Regions from separate parts of the Homo sapiens genome. Here region 1 is linked to region 2. Evidence: fine-mapped expression QTL. A gene starts in region 2. The other region holds a variant in brackets. All regions are shown on one strand. Distances are from middle to middle.

Region 1 (9,420 bases), 22 kb after region 2:
ATAACTCCTGCCACAGAGGAAGATAATTCTGGCAGTAGTGTGGGGGCGAGGCAGGGAGAGGGGGTTAGAGACAGTGCCAATAGTTCAGGCAAGAGATGGAGAAGATCTTAATTAAGGCCTGGTCTACCGGCATGAAGACGAAGAAAAGGAAGACGAATATTATTTACTGACATTCTACTCTGTGTTGTGCATATATAAGATATCTAATAACCTTGCAAACAAAGTGTTGATGTTCCCATCTTACAGATGAGGGAACTGAGGGGGTGGCCCGATACCTCACAGCCTGTACTTGGCAGGCAGACCCAGAGCACAGGTGCAGTGTGGGATGCTGGGGTGCTGGCATTCACAGATGCTGCTGATGCAGAATAGAGAGGACTGACGGGGGGAAGACCTGGGGATGATTCAGTTTTCCATTAGGGTGATGAGTCAATGGTGGTCCGTTAACAAATGAGTTCTTTGGGTTGAACCTGTTGGAAGAGAGAATGCTTTTAGATCGTCGTGGTTAGGCCTTGCCAAATCCCACGGATGATAATGTATTGATAATGCTGGTGGCTCTGGCTTGACTGAGTGCTTCTGGCCACGGAGTGATGCGTGGGGAGAGACCACGGCTCCTGGATGCCGCTGGGCCTCTGTGGGGTGGCCGAGAATGCAGACACAGTGCCGCCAGGTGGTGGAAGGTCACTCCGCTACCCCGGGTTTCTCGCTTTTCCCAGTAGATTTCATCTGCAGCCTGAAAGGCCAGCAGGAAACAGCGCTGTGAGGTTCCACATGCAGGTACCATCCTGGCTCACCCTCCCTCAGCCTCCCTCCTTCATCCTTGCCCCAGCTCATTCCCCAGGCTGCCTGCAGAGGGGTGGGTTCAGGCTGAGAATGAAAGTTCTTGAAACTGAAATCTTTGGGCCCAGACTGTCTCTTGGCCTCACCCCCGTCTCTGTAAAAGCCTCTCCTTCATCCAACGTTTACGAGCGCCTCTAGTGTGCTGGACACTGAGGACACAAAGATGAATAAGGCGCTGTCCGCAGCTCTTTCACAGGCCGGGAGGGAGACTCGACACAGAGATCGTGCTGTCATCCTGTTGGCAAACTCTAAGAGGAAAGAGCACACAGAGCCGGAGGGCTCCCTCCCCGAGGAGGGAGCATTTGGATTGAGCTTACGGGGAGGAGCAGGACTTTGTCAGGTGGAAAACCAGGGGTGCAATGGGAGGAAGAGCATCCAGTCCAGAGAGGAGGCTGTGTGCGCTGGGGAAATGGTGACTGACCCACAGATACTGAGCATCCTTTCTGTGGCAGCTTGGTGCTGGGACCGGGGAGATGAATCATACATGGCTCCAGTTATGAGAAACTCTTGCAATAGACATTTTCTTTTGAAGGATCTGTACACAGGTAAGGAATTTGGACACAGACCTTATGTACTGGAAGCCCCTAAACTAGAGTTCTTGTACCCAGAAATTATGCAAGACAAACCATTGGGATAGCGAAAAAATAGAGAAACTTCTATTTCTGTGTATTTCTTAACTAAAAACAAAGAAAACAACTAAACTTTTCATATATATATATATATATATATATATATATATATATATATATATATGTTTGTTGTTGTTTTGTGGTTGTTTTTTGAGATGGAGTTTCACTCCTGTTGCCCAAGCTGGAGTGCAATGGCGTGATCTCGGCTCACTGCAACCTCCATCTCCCGGGTTCAAGCGATTCTCCCACCTCAGCCTCCCGAGAAGTTGAACTATAGGCGCACCACCACACCTGGCTAATTTTTTGTATTTTTAGTAGAGACGGGGTTTCACCATCTTGGCCAGGCTGGTCTTGAACTCCTGACCTCAGGTGATCCGCCTGCCTTGGTCTCCCAAAGTGCTGGGATTACAGGCATGAGTCACTGCACCCAGCCAATTTTTTTTTAAGAGACAGGGTATCGCTATGCTGCCCAGGCTGGAGTGCAGTGGCTATTCACAGGCATGATCCTACTACTGATCAGCACGGGAGTTTTGAGGTGCTCCATTTCCCACCTGGGCCAGTTCACCCTACCTTAGGCAACCAGGTGGCCCCCTGCTCCTAAGAGGTCACCATATTGATGCTGAACTTAGTGTGGACACCTGATGAGCATAGCAAACCGAGGCCCAGAACTCAAGTGAGGACTCAAATGATCTTCCTGCCTCAGCCTCCCGAGTAGCTGTGACTACAGGCACGTGCCACCGCACCTGGTGCATTTGTAATATTTAATGTACAGGTTGGCCTCGTGTCTGCACTTGGACCCTGTGTCAATGGCCCACATGTTGTGCGCATCTGCGAGGGTCTGAGGGGGTTAGCATATTGTGACATGTTTACACATGGTCTGTGAAGTGGATTTCTCGGTGATCTCATCTGGTTTTAACTAAATTAATCCTCACACAATGGACAAGGTATTTAGGAAATTTCCTGAAAAGATATCAGGGATTAAGAGAAGGATGCAGGCAAGCACAAGCAAATGGCCAGGCTCTTGCTCCCCTATTCGGAAGGGGCTCCCATTATCTTTCTATCTTGAGTGTAAAATTGTAACAATCTCATTTTACTTGATAGAAACTGGCAAAAAAAAAAATCCAGAATTATCAAGATAATGTTTTGATTTTTTTTTTTTTAAGTCAAGGTCTCACTCTGTCACCCAGGCTGGAGTGCAGTGGCAGGATCACGACTCACTGCAGTCTTGATCTCCTCAGTTCAAGTGATCCTTTTGCCTCCTGAGTAGCTGGGACTCAGGCATGCCACCATGCCCGGCTAAGATAATTTGAAGTATAGTCTCAAGTCTCCTGATGTTAGTACTACTCTGTCTTTCAGGGTGTATTATGCCTTCAGATATTGGCTAGTGATGGTAATGTATGTAAATATAATTTATACATAAATACATATATTAGAGATGTGTGCTAAAATTCTTTTGTTACTGACAGAGATCAAAGAACTTTGGAGACCACAGCTCTAGGTAATAAGGAGCCAGTAGGAGTTTAAGCAGGAGGATGACTTGTTTGTTTTTGTTTTATTTTGAAAGATCATTCTGGTAGCTGTGTGGATGGAGAGCCTGGGGTAGAGAGAATAGTAGGGAACTCATGCAGCGGTCCAGGTGAGAGATGAGATCCCAAACCCAGGGTAGGGCAGCCAGGAGGGCAGAGCAATTTCACATGCACGTTGGACTTGGTGACTGACTAGATTTGGAAAACAAGGGCGAAGAGATCCAATCCCGGGGTATTTCCAGGTGTCTGGGGGATTAGGCAAATAATAGTACCACCTACCAAGGTGGCAAACAGAGGTGGGTTTGGGGAGAAAGGTGAAGAGTCTGGGACTGAACAGTTTGAGTCAGAGGTGCCAGGGAGAGCCCTGGGTGGAGGTCGTACGTCCGGGGGGTCCTGTGGCTGGTTTGGGGCTGCAGCCCCCTCTTCCCCAGCAGGGCCCAGGTGAGCGAGCGGGCTGGGTCATGGTCATGATGAGTAAATCAGGCAGTAATGGTGTCCTCTGTCCAGACCTCCTGATTCTAGCCTGGTCACTGGGTGCTGCATCCCAGGTATCAGACCCTGATTGTTACCAGTGGAGGGTGTCCTGATTCTTTGTGCTTCGAACAAAGAATTGGACAAAACGCACAAAGCAAGAAAATAATGAAGCAACAAAAGCAGAGATTTAATGAAAACAAAAGCACACTCCACAGGGTGGGAGTGGGCTGAACAAGAAGCTCAAGGGACTGGGTACAGAATTTTCTGGGGCTTAAATACCCTCTAGAGGTTTCCCATTGATTACTTAGTGTACACCCTATGTAAATGAAGTAGAGGACCACAATCAGTCTGATTGGTTGTGGAGAGAGACCAACCAGAGATTGAAGTGAAGTTACAAAGTTACACCCTATGCAAATGTCTGATTCGCCTGTGGAAAGTGACCAGAGGCTAAAGTGAAGTTACAAAGTTATACTCCTATGCAAAAGAAAAGTTGGCCAGCGACGGAAGGTGTGAAAGTTGGGGTTTTCCTTTTGATTTAGTTCTAGGAAGTCAGTATGAATTGGCCTTAGGTTCCCTGCCTCCAGGCCCTATTCTCCTGCCTCATGATCACTCTCTATATTTCACTTTTGCAAAACCACTCAAAATGCAGGTACCCTGTCTTCCTCCTCCTGTGAGCCATCATGGACGTGACAAGGCTACCTCTTCACGGTGCTCTAGGCCAAAGCTTTGGGAAAGCCAGATTAGGCTGGGA[G/A]TGTCCTTGCTGTAATCGGATGCTGAGATAAGCAAAGTGAAATGCAGTGGAGAAGCAGGTGGGGCAGGGCAGGTTTGGGCGCTGTGCAGCTGCCTAGGCTGGGGAGGGACGGGTGTTTGACCACGCAGAAGGGCTCTACAGGGCCACGCTTTAGGACAGGAATATGCATTCTGGCCTTATCTGGTCATTTCTGAGTTGGGATATCTGGATCACTCCAGGGCAGGGTGTGCTTGACTCAGAGCCCACTCGGGGCTTGACCCAGAGAAGGCTAGCGTTTAATATTAGTGATGAAGGCTGGGCATGGTGGCTCACGCCTGTAATCCCAGCACAATTCCGCCAGGCGGGTATATCGCTTGAGTCTAGAAATATGAGACCAGCTTGGGTGATATAGCGAAACCCTATCTCTACTAAAAATTACAAAAAGTAGCCAGGCGTGGTGGCACATGCCTGTAGTCCCAGCTACTTGGGAGGCTGAGGTAGGAGGATGGCTCGGACCCGGGAAGTAGAGGTTGCAGTGAGCCAAGATCTTGCCACTGCACTCCAGCCTAGGCAACAAAGCGAGAACCTGTCTCAATAATAATAATAATAGTGATGAAAAAAACAACAAAAAATCTCCACCCCTGAAAAAACAGACAAATAACAATAACAAAAGCCAGGCACGATGGCACATGCCTGTAGTCCCAGCTACTCAGGAGGCTGAGGGAAGAGGATATCCTGAGCCCAGGAATTTGAAGCCAGCCTGGGCAACATAGGGAGATTTCTTCTCTTAAAAAGAAAACAAACAAAACCCTTTAGTATTAGTGATGACTCTGAGGATGACACCCAGAACCGCCAACCTGAACCTCCGGTGGGACCTTGGGGTCCATGTGGATGGGGAACACAGTGTATGAAATCAATGGCAGATTGGTGCCTATCTGATCTCCCATTTAAAATTTTTTCTTTGCAAGAGAAAAGAAGAGTGATATAGATTGGTGTGTTAGGAAAAAACTCAAACTCAATTTTCCCCTTGGTTCTCACGCCACAATCATCAACGCAATAGACTTCTGTGACCAAATGCCTGGGGGTTCTCCCCACACACCAGTAAGCAATCATTTCTGCAGCAGACACTGGCTGACACTTCGAGTCAACTCAATTCCCACACTATCTACCAGATAGCAACAGATCCTATGGTTGATGAGGGCTCAGTGCCACAAGACCGCAACTCCCTTCCCACCAGTTACAAATCTAGGCCTCTGGACCTTCTAGCCAATTGTTCTTCATTTGGGGTTCCCACAACTCCCTCATTTGCTGGAGTGACTCAGAGAACTTAGGAGAACACTTACCTTTACAGGTTTACTATAAAGGATATTACGAATGATACAGAAGAAGAGATACGTAGGGTGAGATATGGGGTAAGGGACACGGGGCTTTCATGCCCTCCCGAGTCGGGTCCCCTTCTGGAAACCTCCACCTGTTCAGCTACCTGTCCTTTTTTAGGCTTTTATGGAGACTTCGTTACATAAGCATGATTAATTAAGCCACGGGCCATTGGTGATCAACTTACCCTCCAGCCCCTCTCCCCTCCCCTAAGTTTAGGGGTGGGGCTTAAAACCCAACCTTCTAATCCTGCCTTGGGCTTTCTGGTGATCAGCCCCTGATCTACCTGAAGCCACCTAGGCCCTTCCAGGCCTCAGTCAGCTCATTAGCACACAAAAAGACAACCTTTGGAGTTTCTAAGGACTTTAGGAGTTGTATGCCAGGAAATGGGGCTGAGGACCAAATATATTTACCACAATAGGCAAAAAGATTCAACATGAAGAGGGTAAAGAAGATTTAGAAATAAAGACAGAAAAATGCAGACGAGAGAGACAGTAAACAGAAAGAGTAGAAAGGTAAGCAGAAAATCATCAACTGAAAGAAACAGAAAGAAGAGTAGAAGTGTTATAGGAAAGGGGTCCCCATCCAGACCCCAAGAGGGGGTTCTTGGATCTCACCCAAGAAAGAATTCAGGGCAAGTCTGCGGTGCAAAGGGAAAGCAAGTTTATTAAGAAACTAAAGGAATAAAAGAATGGCTACTCCATAGACAGAGCAGCCCCGAGGGCTGCTGGTTGCCTATTTTTATGGTTATTTCTTGATGATATGCTAAACAAGGGGTGGATTATTCATGCCTCTTCTTTTTAGACCAAATAGGATACCTTCCTGACTTTGCCATGGCATTTGTAAACCGTCTTGGCGCTGGTGGGAGTGCAGCAGTGAGGACGACCAGAGGTCACTCTTGTCGCCATCTTGGTCTTGGTGGGTTTTGGCCAGCTCCTTTACTGCAACCTGTTTTATCAGCAAGGTCTTTATGACCTGTATCATGTGTTGACCTCCTATCTCTTCCTGTGACTTAGAATACCTTAACTGTCTGGGAATGCAGCCCAGTAGGTTTCAGCCTTATTTTACCCAGCTCCTATTCAAGCTGGAATTGCTGTGATTCACATGCCTCTGACAGAATTAAGAGAGAGAGAAAATAAAAGAGGCAACAGAAAAACAGATGGAAGTCAACGAAGAGGCAGAAACTCAGAGACACAAAGAAGGCAAGGGTGCAGGGGTGTGGAGGGAGGGCCAGGAGAGGGTTGGGAGGGATGAAGCCCTTGTCCTGGGTTCCTTCTTTCCCCATCCACATGCCCTGTTCTCCGTTGCAAATGGAAGAAGCCAGAGCCCAAGTGAACCACCTGTCTCCATTGTTGACTCCCAGCTGGTCTTTGAGAAGCATCAGAGGCAGTTGTCACCTTTGCTTTGGCCGGGAAGGAGCCTTCCAGCAGGGCCTGGAGAGGAGCTGGGCTGGCCTGTGGTCTTGGCCCCTGTGAACTGAAGGGAAGCCTGACTTGATGTATTAGCTCAGGGGTGCCTCTCTTGACCCACTTTTGTTTGTTTGTTTTTGAGATGGAGTCTCGCTCTGTTGCCCAGGCTGGGGTGCAATGGCACAGTCTTGGCTCACTGCAACCTCCACCACCAGGGTTCAAGTGATTCTCCTGCCTCGGCCTCCCAAGTAGCTGGGATTACAGGCACTCACCACCACGCCCAGCTAATTTTTGTATTTTTGGTAGAGATGGGATTTCGCCATGTTGGCCAAGCTGGTCTTGAACTCCTGACCTCAGGTGATCCACCTGCCTTGGCCTCCTAAAGGGATGGGATTACAAGGATGAGCCACTGCACCTGGCCCCACTTTCATTTTTGATGAAACAAAATTGGAAGCTTAGTTGGTGGGAGGTCAAGGACCTTCCAATTCCAAGGGGAGACTGAGTTGTAATGAACTTGGACCGAGGCAGTTGGTGGGGTTCTGCCCCATGTGGTAGGTGGCATTGTTACTTACACGCCAATGCTTTTGCTGTGGGCTGCAAAAGTGGGAATCCCTTGAGCAGGGAGGGTTGGTTTTGTGAAGTCAACTCATAATGGGGACAGAGGCTTGATGCTGGCTCTGTCTAGCATCATATCTAGTGAAAGAGTCACCAAAGAGCGGTCCTGGGTGCAGAGGAAATGGGCCCCGTAGATCCAAGCTAATCGGTGTCCAGCAGCCCAGGTCGCAGGAAGGGCTGTGGGGAACATAAGCAGGTTCTGCTTAACAGAGGTTGCCTCTGTGGAGGCCAGCAGGATCTGTGAGGTTTTCCCAGGGCTCAGGTGAAGTATCCCCCACCCCTCCCACTTCCTTTGATCCGACGGTGTTCGTCTGGTAACTTAGTTACTGATTCTGCTTCCCTGGAGCACTAATGCCAAGAAGAAGGTAGCTCCAGCTGGGGACCTGCCACTCTAGTCCCTGAAATAATTTACTACTTAAAAAATGTAATACATTGGCATAAAAGTAGCTAGAAATGCCACTTATTGAGGGAGAACTTGCTAAATGCCTTCTGTGAATCGATCATCCAATCTTTTCAATCTTGTGAGGTGGGCATTATTTTCTCCATTTCACCTACAGGGAAACACTCTCAGAACTGGGGTTTGAAGCTGGGTCTCTCTGCAGCTGAAGCTTGGAGTCTTAATCACCTCCCTTCTTGGAAGAGGCGGGGTTGAAAATGATGCTGGGCTTGCGCCTTGGCCTGTCTATAGCCTCTCAATCACTCCCACTGTGGGTGTCATGTGTCTGTCACGAGTGGCAGTGCAAGGTGTCCCGTTTTGGAACAAGCAGGGCCACGACCATATGCTAGAATGGGTGACTCAGCAGAAGCGGTGCCTCTGGGAGCCTCTGCTGGCCTGGACGCCTCCCACTGGAGTTCCTCAACCTGCAACCAGGACACTGTGATGTGAGGTCACAGGGCTGGAGAGGGGCAGCCTGGAAGTGCTTTCTCTGTCCCTCTCTTACTTATAGATCAAAAAAGGAAAATTAAAAGGGGGCCAGGGTGGGTGTCTGCCTGGGGATCCAAAGGATGAGGGCAGCCATGTGGGAGGGATGATGGGAGTACCCATGTCTGGCTGGTAAGAGAGACTTGGAAGCCAGATTAGAACCAGCATTCCAGGGAACCTGGAGCTGGCAGGGAATTAGAGGAAGGGGTGGCGAGGGGAACAGCCAGAGGGACACCCTGGACTCTGTAGAAGGGGGTCCCAGACAGCCATTTGCAGTTGCTCTCCCAGACCCCCGGGGGTCCAGAGGAACACAGGATGCTAAGCCTAGAAGAAAGGCGGCCAAGGACAGTCTCCCAGGTGAGCATGGCAGCTGTCCCTGGGTTTCCACCACTAAGGCTTCCCAGGGCTGCCTGGCCCCTGTCCTGCCCTCGCTGCCGGCCTGGGAAGAAAAGGCTGAATCGAAACAGACTGCAGCAAAACCCTGACTCATGCCTTCCGATGCCAGTAGACCTGATTTTGTATTTCCCAGCACTTTCATTAGCACCAAGAGCTATTATAATTGCAAGAGGTGTGTGGGGAGGTGGGAGTGGGTGCTCACACTCACAGCATGGGAAGTGGGGCTGAGACTCTTGTCAGGGGAGAAAGACCACAGCCTCCTACCCCATCCCCGTTCACCTGAGAGGTGGTGGGATGGGGAGTGGTCTGGGCTCTGGGCAGAGACTCTAGGCAGGCCACATGGGTGGGGGACCTGGAGGAGAGGCATGTGAGTAGATACGGCTTGAGGGAGCCCCTAGAGCGCGGGAATTGGGTTTTGATAAAGGGACTGGGCTTGGGCACAGCCCTGGCTGCCTCCTGGCACCCCACTCAGACTCCTCTCCTCCTGGGCCCTCACAGGTGGGTC
Region 2 (9,420 bases):
GAGCAGACTCTTTCCAGGCTGAAGATGAGACCCAATCGGACGACTCTGCATTGTTGCAGCTAGAGTCAAGTTAGGATAACGTCAACAGTAATTCACACCCAACTGGCATGTAACAGTTTACAAAGTCCTTTCATCTAACTCTTGTCTAGTCAAGTCGATATCAATTGTCTGCCAACCAGGATGGGCAGCATTAAAGAATTAATTATTAAACTAAACAAATGCTTGTAAAGCATCTACATTGTACCAGGCACTACTCCAGGAGGATTCAAAGACAGATCAAGAAATCATCCCAGCAAGATGGGGAAAATAGTGCCCAAAGAAGACAGCCGAGGGTCTGTCCCCAAGAAGCTTGTTTCTTGGTGGAGAGGAGGGCTAGGGGAAGGGGGAGGACAGGCCATAAACAGATAAACCAGAAAAGATCAGAGAGGGGTAGGTGCTATGCAGGGAGTAATCCAGGGTGAGAGGAGACAGCGCCTGGATGCAGACTGAGAATGGGAGCTCTAGGGAGGGGCTCAGGATGGTTACGGAGGATCTTGCTGGTCTCCCTAGAGGAGGTGACAAGAAGGAGCCAAGTGGGAAGGAACAAGCTTGGGGGGTTGGAGGAACTGAATAGAGATGGGCATGGCTGGAGCAAGGCAAGGGCATAAGGAGAGAGGAGGTTGGTGGTAAAAAGACGCCAAATGTGTTTGGAAGATACAAACAATAGGCCTCGCCGATGGATTGGGTGTGCTTGGGTTTTAGTTACGTGGGTGAGAGGGTGCTTGCTGAGCTGTGGGAGGCTATAAGAGTGGTTGGTGGAGCAGGGAAGTGGGCCCTTTCCTGTCAATTCATTCTTTTCCACTGAGTCTACCTGTGCATGCATGCCTGCATTCATTGAGGTAGGTAGGGCAAGTTTCTTTTGTTTATTGTTAATTTAACAAATATTGACTATACAACTTTGATGGACCCGGAATAGTGCTAGAAGCTGAGGCACAAAGGAGGCTTATATTCTGCACTTTCTGGGGCCTTGGATTCCTCATCACTGAACTGAACAGTGGCTAATTTTGTGTGTGTGTGTGTGTGTGTGTGTGTTTGTGTGTGTGTGTGTGACAGAGTGAGAGAGAAAGAAAGAGAGAGAGACAGAGTCTCATTCTGTCGCCCAGGCTGAAGTGCAATGTTGTGATTTCAGCTCACTGCAGCCTCCACCTCCTGCGCTCAAGGGCTCCTCCCACCTCAGTCTCCTGAGTAGCTGGGACTACAGGCATGCACCATCACGCCCAGCTATTTTTTTTTTTTTTTCGTAGAGATGAGGTATCACTGTATTGCCCAGGCTGGTCTCGAACTCCTGGACTCAAATGATCTGCCCACCGCAGCCTCCCAAAGTTCTGGGATTACAGGTGTGAGCCACAATGCCTGGCTCTTAATATGTTTTCAATTGCTATTCACTGAGTAGTAGTTGTGGAAAAAAATTCTATCCCTGTTTGAAACCAAAAGAGAGAAAGAAAAAATAAACTAAAGCAAAACCGTAAGCTAGAATGACAGGGACTGTGACTATCTTGTTAACTGTGATATCCCTGATGTCTCCTACAATGCACAGTACATAATGAGTATTGAAAAAATATTTGTTGAATGAAAGAATTAATGAAAATATCTCAGTTTGAGGACTCAGCCTCAGCTCAGTCTTTACGAACCTGACTGGTATATTCACACAGTGACATATTAGGCTGCAGTCAAAACAAATGAACTGTAGTGACACAAAATAATATGGATGGGGCCAGGTACGGTGGCTTACACCTGTAATCCCAGCACTTTGGGAGGCTGAGGCGGGTGGATCTGACGTCAGGAGTTCGAGACCAGCCTGGCCAACATGGTGAAACCCTGTCTCTACTAAAAATACAAAGATTAGCCAGGTGTGGTGGCACGCGCCTGTAATCCCAGCTACTCAGAAGGCTGAGGCAGGAGAATCCCTTGAACCCGGGAGGGGAGGTTGCAGTGAGTGAGATGGTGCCACAGCACTCCAGCCTGGGGGACAGAGCAACACTCCATCTCAAAATAATAATAAGGATGATATTAGAATGTAATATTAAGGGAAAAACTTAGTCCCAAAAGATTACATATAGCACAGAATCTTTTCTATAGAGAAGCAAGGGAATGATGAATATGGGGTTTGGGAAGAACTTACTTGGGCAGGGAGCTTGTAGTACAGTCCCTGCCTATCAAATATGTATAGCCAATATTTGTCGAATTAATAAACGAAAGACACTTGCTCTACCCACCTCAGGAGAGGGATGGATATGTGTGTGCAGGAGTGGGAACCTCATGGTTAGATGTAGGTTACTATTAAGTCCAGCTTTTGTTGGGGATGATGGGTTTATGGAGGCTTATTACATTGTTAAATCCAACTAACTAGCAAGTTACAAATGGGCCCTGCATGGACCAATAGTGAAAAAAGTCATGAAGCAAGGATTCTAGTTCCCCCAATGCTATGCACCCAAGGCTCAAGGAAAACATAAAAAAGCCATCACCTGGCTATGCTGAGTGGCTTGAGGAGGTCAAACTCATGTCCTCACCATGCTCTGCCCTTACTGTTGTGCTGCCTGAGTTTCCCCATGAGTAGCTCATTCTTTGGCTTTTCTTGAAGCTCTTTGGCAAATATCTGTGACACAGACAGGTCAGAGCTGATGGACAGATACACCTTTGGAAGAGGAGCTGCAGAAGGTCACGAGTACTGGGGCTCATGGGCAGGGAGGTAGGTGCATTTTAGGCCTGTGAGTGTCAACTGGGGGCCATCAATGTCGATGACATCCCTGAGCAGGATAGAAATAGGGACTTATGGCCAGCTGCATCTCCTCTGAGCCCAGAAGCAACAATCCTGAGCTAAGGAAAGGAGAGAATGGGTCTGAGAGATGTGGGTACCAGGTAAAATTCAGAGATCCAGCCAGACCCCATCACCATGGTGGGTCCCCGCCATGATCAGAAGATGCAAAGCTGAAACAAGGCAACTTCCTTATTTTCAGATGAGAAAACAGAGGTCGGATAGAATTGTCTTAACCTGGAGTTAATAGAGGGAAGGAGGAAGTTGAGAGGTCACCAAACAACACATGTGCTTCCTTCTGCTTTGCTGGAGATGTATTTATTTACCCCCAGCTTGAACTCAGCTTCTGCCTACAACTGTTACAGCCCCGGCCCAGCCCAGACCAAGCAAAGGCATTGGCCTTTCCCTTTCTGTTTGGGCCACTGGCTGGGCCAGGCCTGTCTTCTCTGTTGATTCAGTCTGCCGCAGAGCCCTGACTCATGGGTCCAGCCCAGCCAGTGTCTGACCTGGGGCTCATCCGGGAATGAAGCTCCTGCTGTGTGCAGTACAGTGGAAGGGCAAGAATGCCCAGGCCCCCAGGGCCCAGGTAGCGGGTGAGGTGGGGAGGTGGAAGTGGGTGGGTGTTCAATCACTGGAAAACCTGCCATTGCCTGATCAACTCAGAGAATCTTCTTTTCCTGCTTCTCGGTTTGTCACCGGCAGAGGAAGACATTAATCCAAGACCCAAATATGGAGGCAGAACCATTAGTTATTGCAGTTGAGTATTATTATATAATTTACGATGTCTTTCTTTCATAAATGCTGTCCTATATAATCCATGGAACAACCCTGAGAAATTGTCCCCATTTTACAGAAAAGGCAGCTGCTATGGCTTCGGAGCAAGTAAGGAACAGATCTAGCCCTTTGGGCCGGGTTTCTGGACTTGGTGGACTGTTGATTTCATTTCCCCATGGTTTCAGGAACTCATTTCGGTAACAGTCATTAGCTGGTGCTGGGTCCTTTTGAATCACTCCTCCCTTGCAATGCAGCCTTGTTGGATATAACCAGCATGCAGTCATCATGCAGAGATTGCCCCCAGCATCTCTCCAGCTCTTCCTCGGTGTGAAGGTAGAGTGACTTTGCTCAGTTCTGGGCTCTGCCATATCATCCATGAATGCGGTCAAGAGACCTCAAAGAGCATGTTGGGAAAGGGGCCTATTGCAGGGCTTGGTTCCCAGGAGGGGCTTTATTGATATTAGCATTTGTTCTTCCCTTTCTTCCATAAGTTCCCACCTTTCTCACCTGCCTCTTCTTCCTTTATTCCTATTCCCCACCCCTACCACTGTTTTAGATCATGGGGAACCTCCTGGTTGGGCTTAGCTCAGCTCCAAAAAGCAAACAGACATCTTAAGGTCAACTTCCTTTCCAGCTCAGAGAGAATGAACCCAGATACAAGGCAGCTCTTGTTTTTAAATGGAGTGAAGCTTAAGTGGCTGCAGAGAAGCCACAAAGTGTGCTGCAGAGAAGCCACCAGCCTGGAGAGTATGAGTTCTCATCTTGCCTTGTCTTCTGACTTGCTGTGTGGCTTTGGGCACACTCCTCAATGTCTCTGAACCTCAAGATCCCTTTGGGTAATTGGGAACTGCCCTTCAGAGATGGGATGAAAGAGTTAATAACCTCATAATGAAACAGGCAAGTCCACCAGGCTAATAAGGAGAGGAAGAAGAGGCGGCAGCTCAAGGAGGCCAAAGGAACAGAAAGCTCGGCCAGCTCCTGTCTGCCTCCCTTGCCAAGCATCCTGTCCCTGGGGCCTGATTTCTCTCTTCCTCTCTGCAATGCTGACTTGGCATTGACTTGCTCTGGAAAGAAGTCAGTAAGGGCAGAGCTGGAATGACTGGAGTGTGGACAAAGAGAGAAAAGCAGGGGCACACAAAAGAGGGTGACAGCTTCAGTCTTCCCTGGAGTCCAAGGCCCTGGCTTCCCATGGTCTCATAGGAAAACCTAGAGCCAGAGATGGTGCTGTTGCTAGGTGATGGGATAAACAGGTCCTTTGAGGCTTGGGCAGGTGGCAGTTAGGTTGCTGAGGCCAGTAATAAGCAGTGGGGAAAACCCAAGGGAGGGGGTGGGGAAAGTTCTTCGGGTAAGCCAAGAGACCCAGAGGTGCTTGCCGTCAGCTTGCAGAGTGGGGCCCGGCCACAGTGCTCCTCTGAGGGAGCCTCACTCTGCTCTCTGACCCCAGAACCTGCATCCCTCCCCAAAACCAACGGCAAGCAGCTGTGTCCTCTCCACTTGCAGCTGGAATAGGCAGTTTGATGCCTTTGCTGCGCTGGCAACAGGGCTCTCTCTCTTGGATGTCTCAGCCATGACAGGTAAGGAGAGGGTCACTGAGGGCTGGAAGATCATGGGGCAGGAGAGGAGGGAGTGAGTTTCCTGAGATGAGCCTGGTGGTGATGCAGCAGCCCAGAGTGCATGGGAGGTCCTCAGAGATGACTGATCATGCCGACTTCCAAGTATCCTGGGATCGCACCTGTTACTCTGTCTCTAGGCAGGTCGGCCACCAGCCCAGGCCATATGCCGCTGGGCATCTAAGCTCTCACGCAGAAATTCAGGGAGCATCCTCACAAACACTGCCTTGCGTTGAGTCATTATTAGAGCAGCACTTTTTCCTTTGGGTCTAACCTCAGCCTTGGCTGCTACATTAGAAACCATTTTGCCTTGTTCTAAACCACATAGGTGCTGACCTATTGGCAATTTGAGCCGAGCACCTCATCCCCCATCTCAGCACATAATGGCTCCAGGGCAGGGCCTGGGGCAGAAGGGAGGAGTCAGGCAGCCTGCCATTATCCCCTGCCAGCCTGCTGTTCAGCTCCCATCATTTAAGAATCAGCTTTTGTGTTCGGGCATAGCTCTTAGGTTCAGATAGGGCTGGGGAGGCAGGGAAGATGTAACTATTCCTATTTCACAAATGGAGAAACTGAGGCACAGCGCTTATGCTTTTTCCCCAGAGACAATGTGAAGGGCAGGAGTGAGGTATTTGTACATGCCCCTTGGGCTAAATTAAACTGAAGACAGACCTGGTTCCCACTGGAGGGCCCTGCTTCCAGGTGATGCTGCTGTTTACTGCAGTGCTTAGGAATCCCTCTGCGATCCTTCTCTTTGTCCTAGGGGAAGCAGCCCATTCTCTCCCACCTTTCTGAACTCTCAACAGCTCTACTTTGCTCAGCTTTCCCTCTGTTCCAGAGTGGTGGGTCCATCTGAGCCCACCTTCCCCTCCTGGAAGGGTCTGATAGGAAGGAAGGTGCCACCATCTTTGCACACCTGAGGACAATGCCTGGACAATGGCTGGAGGGGACTCGAGAGGGCCAGAAGGGGTCCCGCCACACAGTTCAGCCTTTCAGCCTGGCAGGGACCCTCATGGGTTTGCCATTGGGAAGGGCTGATGGATTTTAAAGCTTAGAGGGGTTCTCTCAACCTTGCAATTTACCTGAACTGAGGACCTGCCATCCATGGAGCAGTCTGACGTTAATTTAAAAAGGTTCAAAGACAGAGTTTATACCATCTTTCAAGAATCGTACTCACTTTTGCTTGTCCTGAGTTGTCCTTTAAACTTTAAGAGGGAGGGAAATGGCAGGGAGGGAAAAGGAACTGATTGGGACTGACTCCAGCCAGGAGTTTGAGACCAGCCTGGCCAACATAGTGAAACCCCATCTCTACTAAAAATACAAAAAATTAGCTGGGCGTGGTGGCAGGTGCCTGTAATCCCAGCTACTCGGGAGGCTGAGGCAGGAGAATCGCTTGAACCTGGGAGGCGGAGGTTGCAGTGAGCCAAGATCCTGCCACTGTACTCCAGCCAGGGCAACAGTGTTAGACTCTGTCTCAAAAAAAAAAAAAAAGAAGAAGAAGATCTGACTCCTCCATCTGTAGAACAACTTTTGAGCAAGTCACTAAACAGCTCCTGGACCCAGTTTCCTTCTTTGGAATGTGGGTACAATAAAAGCGACTTCACAAGATGATGGGGAGAAAGATTCTGTAAGGTGCGCCACCTGCTCAGCACCGTGCACATTTTCAGCACCTTTGCAAGCCCCCAGGAGCCCCATCTGGTCTTTGCATGATTTTACAGACTTGCTCATAGTCCCCTAGGTTGGTCTTTGCAGTTTGAGGGGTCTCAGCTGCCTTGATCAGAAGGGGGTTGTCCCTTGATCCTGCTCCTCCTGAACTCTGAGGCAGGGACACTGGCCTGAATCCAGCTCTGCCTCTTCCCAGCCATGAAGTCTTGAGCAAGTTAATAAATTTTTCTGAGTCTCAGTTTTCTCATCTGTAAAATGGGGAGAATATGACTTAATTCACAGGGTTGTTGGTGAGAATTATTGATGACACATGTGATGTGCCTGGCTTGGTGCTTGAAACATAGAGGAGTTTAGTAAGTGAAAATTAGTGCTCTCTGCCCCAATTACCCTACAGGCATGGAGAGCAGAACTCCACACATGTTCAAGGAGGGTCTGTGCTGTGGTTCTGTACAGGGGCAGGGTTGAGGATTCTCGTTTGTTCTGGAGGCCCCAGTGATAACCAGCCTTGCTGGGCTGGTGTGGCTGCTGCAGCCAATCTCCTGGCACAGGTTTCAGTGACTCCTAGATCTGTTTCCTGTGAACTCTGAGCTCAGGATCCTATAAATAGTGCTTTAATAGTGCTTCAGTGTCTTCTCTGCCTCTCTGACTTTGCAGTTGCATAACCTGAAGTTCCTTTACTGCTTTCCTGCCCACTCACATAACTCGTCGAGTGCTTCATGAAGTTTTTCCTTGCTGAAATTACATTTGCTAGGAGAGGTTGTGTTTTACAGTGCACAGAGCACAGGCCGTGGAATCCTGCAGCCTAGGTCTGAATCCTGTTTGCTCATTGGCCTGAGGCTTTAGCAAGTTATTGAACCACCAAGAAACTCAGTTTCATGTGTGTGTGAAAAAGAGGGAGAGAGAGAAAGAGAGATGCAGTAAGTCTCCCTCCTAAGGAGCCCCAGATATGCATAGCATATAGTACATTGCCTGGTGCACGGTAAGAGTACGATAATTGTTTTTTTGTTTTGTTTTTGAGATGGAGTCTCGCTCTGTTGCCCAGGCTGGAGTGCAGTGGCGCTGTCTCGGCTCACTGCAACCACCACCTCCCAGGTAAAAGCGATTCTCCTGGCTCAGCCTCCAGAGTAGCTGGGATTACAGGCGTCTGCCACCACCGCCCAGCTAATTTTTTGTACTTTCACCATGTTGGCCAGGCTGGTCTTGAACTCCTGACCTCATGTGATCTGCCCTTTTCGGCCTCCCAAAGCGGGATTACAGGTGTGAGCCACTGCACCCAGCCAAGAGTACAGTAATTGTTAACTGTAATAATAATAACAACAACAATAATAGTTTACTCATTTAGTAAGGCAACTTTCTGGGCCCTGGAGACCTAGCAGTGAACCAGAGGTAAAGCTCTTTTGCCCATGGAGTATATTCTATTATTTTTATTAGTTATTAATAACAATATTAAAATAGAACTTGGGAAGTTCATGACATAGTAGATACTCATAGTCAAAAATTATTTATTGTTAATGGGAAGGAGCTTCATAGAGGGCCTGTCATGTATGTAATAGGAACTGAGCAAAGAGCGACTTTTATGATTTCATGGGCCCCGGGGCTTGGCTTCAGCAGGGGACTCTGTGGACTAAGCGCATCTGGGGACAGTGACCAGGGCAGTTGGGACCGGAGGTGATGTCGTGTGACCTGTGTGAACTCTCTCGGAAGAGAGGGTGGAACACGCAGTTCAGAGAAGCAAGGACCAGTGGAAGCATGAAAGCTTCAAGTGTGTGTGGCCGTCTGAGAAAGGCAAAAGACAGTTCTAGGAGGAACGGGGGAAGTTACAGAAAGTCTTTTCTCCTGGCAAAGGAAAGATTGTTTTCAGCAACCGTAGCTTCTAGAAACAGATGTGTGAGCAAAAGCTGGATTGTGAAGGTTTCTGTGGCAGACGAGGGCCAGGGTCAGATAAGGGCTCTGAGCACCCCTGGGGGATTCGACCGAGCCCCGCAGCGGCGCAGCAGAGGAGAGGGAGGCAGGGCAGAAGTGGCGGGGGTGGGGGACAGTCCTTTCAAACACTGCAGCTCTGTTTTTCTCTCTGTGTCCCATACGAGGATTCTGCATTTGATTTCAGTGGAGCTAAAGGCTCTGAGGTCAAAGTACGCTTGGGGAACCCACTCGCCGAGAAGACCTCTAAGGTTTTTCCTTAGGGTCTGTGATTCTGAAGAGCTCACTCTCAGCCTGAAATTTCTCTTGTCTCCTCCCACAGATAGGATTAGTCCTAGGCCTGATCCACTTATAATATTCTCTCTTTAAATCAATTTTCTATCGTTAATGGTCTCCTGGTAATTTGGGTTTTTTTTTCCCTGAGCAGCATTGGGTATGAAACTTTAGTTTAGTCTTCTTGAAAGTCTAAGTTAATTATAGCTACTGGTTTTCCCTTTGCCCTTGGCTGAATGACCCTTTTCAAGTCATGAACCTCTTTGAGCCTCAATTTCTTTCTTTCTTTCTTTTTTTTTGAGACCGAGTCTCACTCTATTGCCCAGGCTGGAGTGCAGTGGTGTGATCTCGGCTTACTGCAACCTCTGCCTCCTGGGTTCAAGCGAT

Evidence for each region. PIP is the estimated chance that this variant, and not a neighbour inherited with it, causes the effect.
Region 1: its variant is fine-mapped to the expression of SMIM35 in whole blood (INTERVAL, PIP above 0.99).

What each region holds. Positions count from the first base shown.
Region 1 is chr11:118,060,031-118,069,450 of GRCh38, reverse strand. All of the region lies in intron 1 of SMIM35 (small integral membrane protein 35), which reads left to right. It also overlaps the pseudogene RN7SL828P. Among named protein-coding and RNA genes, the nearest start is that of TMPRSS4, 12 kb to the left of the region's middle. RefSeq lists an enhancer at 4,358-4,859. The variant G/A (reference allele first, on the strand shown) is at 4,218.
Region 2 is chr11:118,082,473-118,091,892 of GRCh38, reverse strand. SMIM35 (small integral membrane protein 35) reads left to right here and starts at 4,930. Exons shown (of 5, transcript NM_001394165.1): 1 at 4,930-5,142. The coding sequence starts at 5,136. All of the region lies in intron 1 of TMPRSS4 (transmembrane serine protease 4), which reads right to left. RefSeq lists a silencer at 8,405-8,699.